Linked DNA regions of Homo sapiens: region 1 is linked to region 2. Evidence: fine-mapped expression QTL. A gene starts in region 2. The other region holds a variant in brackets. All regions are shown on one strand. Distances are between the middles of the regions. Region 1 overlaps CLOCK (clock circadian regulator). Region 2 holds the start of LINC02928 (long intergenic non-protein coding RNA 2928).

The links. PIP is the estimated chance that this variant, and not a neighbour inherited with it, causes the effect.
Region 1: its variant is fine-mapped to the expression of LINC02928 in whole blood (TOPMed, PIP above 0.99).

What each region holds. Positions count from the first base shown.
Region 1 is chr4:55,476,627-55,479,547 of GRCh38, forward strand. CLOCK (clock circadian regulator) reads right to left here. Exons shown (of 23, transcript NM_004898.4): 6 at 2,189-2,337. Among named protein-coding and RNA genes, the nearest start is that of CLOCK, 69 kb to the right of the region's middle. The variant A/G (reference allele first, on the strand shown) is at 1,554.
Region 2 is chr4:55,376,626-55,379,546 of GRCh38, forward strand. It overlaps LINC02928 (long intergenic non-protein coding RNA 2928), which reads left to right and starts at 1,169. Exons shown (of 3, transcript XR_941060.4): 1 at 1,169-2,078. SRD5A3-AS1 (SRD5A3 antisense RNA 1) reads right to left here. Exons shown (of 4, transcript NR_037969.1): 2 at 982-1,145.

The sequences.
Region 1 (2,921 bases), 100 kb after region 2:
ATTTTTCTTAGTGTCCTCCTTGTACAACAGTAGAGAGATGGTGAAAAATTTGGAGATCCCTGCTGTGGGACATATGTTTGTCACAATTATTACCATTTTATTTCACTACATACTTCTAATAGATTTAGTTATGAAAAAGCTATTCATAAATGATGAAACCTAGTAACAAATGTTTTTCTATTTTTTAATGTAGACATATTAAAACAAGCAGGCAGAATAAAAATCTATGTCATAGACTATATTCTACAAAATATACTCTAATTTGTAGTAAGAAGTATAAACTAAATTCTGATTTTATCATCAGATAGAGAAATACAGCATACTGTCCCTCATCAAAAGTTAGCATATTAGAAATGCCTGTAGTGGAATATGAAGAGTAACTAAGAAGTAGAGCTACTAAATGTGCGGAATACAGTTGTGTTTTTCAAATTCACATCAATTATATACATTTGGGAAAAGGATTTAAATCCACAAACAAATCCAATCAAGTTTCATTAAACATAGGCCTATTTTAGGATGATACATATATAAAATCCTTTTACCTTAACAGAAATACTATTTTTGTGAGAATTATGTATCTGATTTTGAAAAAAAAAATTACCTAATGCCACAATTCATCCTCTATTGACGGGGAAATATATGCATTTCATTTCATTCAACAACCATTTATTGAACTCCTAGTATCTTTGGACTGGTTTCAATGAGTGTGCCATTTAACAATAGGCACTGAGGTTAGTGAGATACTATCTGTAGAGGTAAAATGTAATAATAGTGGTGGCAATAAATATTGACACATTTACGAAAGAATCAACAGAATTTGGCAACTGTGATATGGTGCTAAGGAAGCTGAAAAAAAATCCTAAAATTTTTTCAGGTTTAAGTCTTAGGTGACTAAAAGGATGGTGGTATAAAAATGAAAAAAGGCAAGTTAAGAGAAAGAGGTAACTTGACAAAATGAAAATAAATTCAATTTTAGATGCACTGAGTTTGAGGACATGCAAAAGAAAGATCTAGAAGTTATCTGGAAATACATGGCTAAAATGTTTGCATCTAAAAATAGAAATCTGGTAGGTTAATAGAGACACAATAGCTGAAGCTATGGAATGAGATAAGCAAGAGAAAGAGTGTACAGAAAGCAAGAGAACAAGGATAAGACTTAGGAATGTCACATTTAGAGGGTAGAAAGAGAGGAAAGAAGTTAGTTTCAGTTAGAAAAGGGGAGGAGAAAGTACAATATAAGGGAAGCCAAGGGAGGAGGGATAAAAATTTCCAGTGCTGTACAGATGCAGAAGAAGATGCGGTATAAGAAAAAGCTATTGCTTTATTGAGGGATAGGAAGGTAATGTCATTAGTGAAATTAACAAAAACACTTTCAACGAGTGGTGGAGCATAAACCAGTCCTGTAAGGCATTACCAACTGAGCTAGGCAGAAGTAAAACAGAGGCACTAATTACTAACTGTCCTGAGTTTTACAGTTTCATTTGCATTTGAAAAAGGAAATTTCCTTTTACAGGTTTTTTTTAAATCTATTATTATCTGTTACCAAAATACTT[A/G]ATATTCTTTAAATTTTCTTTCCATGACTCATTTGTCAAGATGATTTTCTTCTATTAACAAATACTTTATTTTATAGTGTTGATTTACTAGATATACATTGAAACCTTTTAAAATGACACATAAGAACTTTATACTATCCAGCTTTTTCCTTTCTTTCAAATACACCCATAATTTTCCAACACAAACATGCTTCAGTGACAATGAAGTCTCCCTGCCTCTCTGCTTTTGCACATATTCCCTTTGTGTGACATGCTGTCTTCCTTAATCTAAAAGACTCAGTTGAAAAATCAACTATTTTAAAAGTCTCCCTGACATACTCTTTCCTGTGTTTTTGCTGCAAACAGTTTACAAGCACTACTCACATTTGTAATTATGTGCTTACATGTTTGTCTGCCCTGGCTTGACTTAACTTCAAATCCAGGACTGTTACCCTGCATCATGAGGATTTAGCATGTAGTAGGCACGGAATAAATGTTTGTTGAATGAAAGAATGAACATATTAGGAAACCTTTTAAAATGCAATTGATTTCTCTCTCTTAAAAAAGCCAAGGAAGCATCCAATCTTAAGCATCTCTGCCAAGATTCTAACTAATGCTTTGAGAGTCTGTTCCATTTTACAGAGTTAAAAATTTACCTTTATGTTTTCGTAAAAAATCAATGCTTTTCTGCAGAACAGTAGATTTGTCCATCTTTCTAGCATTACCAGGAAGCATGGATCCCAGTTCTTTAATGAGAACATTAAATTGATCTCTACGTTTCTTTTCAGATTTGTTTCTAGATACTCTGATGAAATGAAAAATATGCATTTTTTAAACAATCCATTTAATTACACAAGTAGTTTAATACAATGTTAATTTAGACATGACACAGCATGTACTTCTATCAACATAGATGGTAACAAATATCTTCCAGGTTACCAATATACAGTTAATTTGGGCAATAATTTTTCAGCTCAGTTTATTACTAAAGAAAATTTTACAAATCATACATTTGACAAACATGTTTTTATGAAAATGCCAATAAGAAAAACTGCATTCAAATCACAAGTTTTATTCAATCTAATACTTCCAGTGATTGTTAACTTACATGGTTATTATAAATATATGTACTAAATGAATAAAGACGCTATTCTATGTGAAGCAGTAACCAGTAAACAAACAGCTATTGAGAAAAACTTGATTATTTATAAAACAATCATTTTATGATACCTGTAATTATCTGCTTTGAAGTCAGATTTTCTAATTCAGTTTCTGTTTAAGCAAAGCATAATACTTTTCCAAAAGGTCAGAAGATATTTAATTTATAAACTACATACCAATATTCTAAGTTCTTCCACCTTGCTAATATATCTAAACTCCTAAAGCACA
Region 2 (2,921 bases):
TAGTCTATTCTTACTAACATCAGTCCTTTCCCTCCCACCGCTAAATACCCTATAGTCACTTTTTTTATTTTTATTTTATTTTTTTTAGCTCTCAGAACTTTACTAAACTGCTCTTGAAAAGGTCTCCAACGACCATGCTGCTAAACCCGACAGTTGTTTCTCAGTGTTCATCCCAGCATGGTAGCAGTTGGTTACCTCATTTGAGATGCATTCTTTAATTGGTTCTGAGACACTACACTGTGGATTTTCCTCCTACCTCCCTGGCTGTTCCTTCCCAGGTTCCTCTGCTGATCTCTTCTGTTTCCTGATGTCTGAATGTTGAATTGCCCCAGTTCTCAGTCCTGGGTCCCTTTCTTTATCAATACTTGGTGATCTCATCCAGTCTCATAACTTTAAATACTATTTATATGCTGACAACTTCTAAATTTATATATTCAGCCCAGACATCACCCTGACCTCTAGACTCATATATCTAGTTGCCTACTTAACAGCTCTACTTGACTTGAAAAGCACTAGCTGTTCTCAAGTTTGACATGATTAAAGGTAAATTTCTGATTTTCCTCTTCCCCACACCTGATCCACCTACATTCTTCCTGTTTTTTCACTTACTCAAACCAAAAGCCATGGAGTCTTCCTTGACTCTTCTTTTTCTTTCACAATCCAGAAATCAGTGGGTCTACAGTTAGAGCATGTCCAGAATCTACCTCTGTTATCATCTTTCTACAAACTGCCATCGTGATTTTCATTCATTTTTTGCCTAGATTATTGCAACTGACTAAGTGAGCTCCCTGCTTTCCCCCTTATACCTTACAGACAATTCTCAACACAAGCTAGAGTGATCTTTCACAAACATAAATGAGATCATGCCACTACTGTCCCAAACCCTGCAACACAGCTGCCAATTTCTCTTGGAGTAAGGCTGAAGTTCTTCTACTAACCCACTAGGCCCAGTATGTTGTGGCTCCCAGTCACACACATTACCTCGTCTGCTATTCTCCTCAGTGGACTGTAGATGATCATGTATATGATGCTCCTTATACACATCAGTCATGCCCTGCTTCAGTGTCTCTGCACTGGCTTTTCCTCTGCCTGGAATGCACTTCTCCAAGATATCTGCATGGCCTTCTCACTCAGCTTCTTCAAGTCTTTGTTCAAACATCACTGTATTAGTTATTTACTGCTGTGTAACAAAGTACTCCAAGTCTTAGGAGCTAAAAACAAACATCTATTATCTCATTGTTTCTGGGGTCAGAATTCCAGATACAACTTAGCTGGGTGCCTCTGCCTCAAGGATTCTCTGCAGTCAAGATGTCCCCAGGGCTGTTGTCTCATCTTTAAGCTCTACTGAGGGAGGACCCACCTTCAAGCGCACTCACATGGTTGTTAGCAGGATTCAGTTCCCCATGGGCTCTTGAACTAAAGGCCCTAGTTCCAGGCCAGGCACAGTGGCTCACACCTGTAATTTCAGCACTTTCGGAGACCAAGGCAGGTGGATTGCCTGAGCTCAGGAGTTCAAGACCAGCCTGGGCAACATGGCAAAACCCCATCTCTACAAAAAATACAAAAATTAGTCGGGTGTGGTTGCTTGCACCTGTAGTCCCAACTACTTGGGAGGCTGAGGTGGGAGGATCTCTTGAGCCCAGGAGGTAGAGGTTGCAGTGAGCCAAGATTGTGCCACTGCACTCCCGCCTGCGTAACAGAGGGAGACCCTGTCTCAAAAAAAAAAAAAAAAAAAAAAGAAAGAAAGAAAAAGAAGAAAAAAAAAAGGCCCCTCATTGGCTGGGGCCTCCTTCAGTTCCTTGCCTCTATGGAAGGACTTCTCCATAAAGCATCTCACAACGTGGTACCCAGCTTCCATCAGAGCAAGCAAGCAAGGGCATCCACAAAGGAAGACAATCTCATTATAACTTAATCTTGGAAATTTTGTCTTGTCACTTTTGCCATATTCTCTTTGTTAGAAAGGAGTTACTAGGTCCAGCCTTATACTCAAAGAAAGAGGATACTCAAGGAAGTCCAGGAAATTCAGACTATTGGGGACCATCAAAGAGGCTGCATACCACAGCTGCCCTCTCAATAAGGTGATCCCCTTATTTAAAATTGCAACCCAACCCCCTTGTACCTCTCCTTCTCTCTTCCTCGTTCTCTCTCTATCATACACACATTTCCATTTTCCTTTCCCTTTGCTCTGGTGAGCAATAATAAATACTTATTGTTTTGAGTCACCTGGTTTTGAGGTGGTTTGTTCTGTAGAAATAAACCTCTACAATGTACTTTTTCACTTATGTGACTGACTGCCACTGCTACTGCTTGAGACCGTCATTACAAGACTGAAGGAAGGGACGGACGCAGAAATGTAAACTTAAGACAAAAGAAACTATTTTAAAGGAAGGGGAATCAGGAAAGAAGAAGAGAACTCCCCGCTTCTAGTGAGCAAAGGCAGCCCCCGAGTTTCCACAGCCTTTCTTATTTATTGGGTAGAAAGAGCAGGGAGGAGGAGGTAACGATTGGTCAGCTGCTTAATCGATCACAGGTTCATATTACTACTAACAGGCTTCAGAAGTACCTAATCACAAGAAACACTGCGCTTGGGGCGTGACTGCCCTCAGCATTCCTTCTGGTGGCAGACGCAGTTTGTCAGTTTGCCAACATTCTGCGTTTATGAGAACAGTTTGCTGTTTACTCATATAGCCTCCAGTGGTATACTGAGTTGATCACTACCCTCAATCTTTCGGCCTCCAACACACTTAGGTACATTATTTTTTGCCTGTGTTTCCTCAATGTAATGTGAGCTACATGAGGGCAAAAATTTTTGGGTTTGTTTTTATTGCTTTGTTTGCAGATATATCCCCAGCACTAGTAAAGTGCCTGATATATAGTAGACACTCAACATTTATTAAATGTATGACTCTGTTACTGTTATC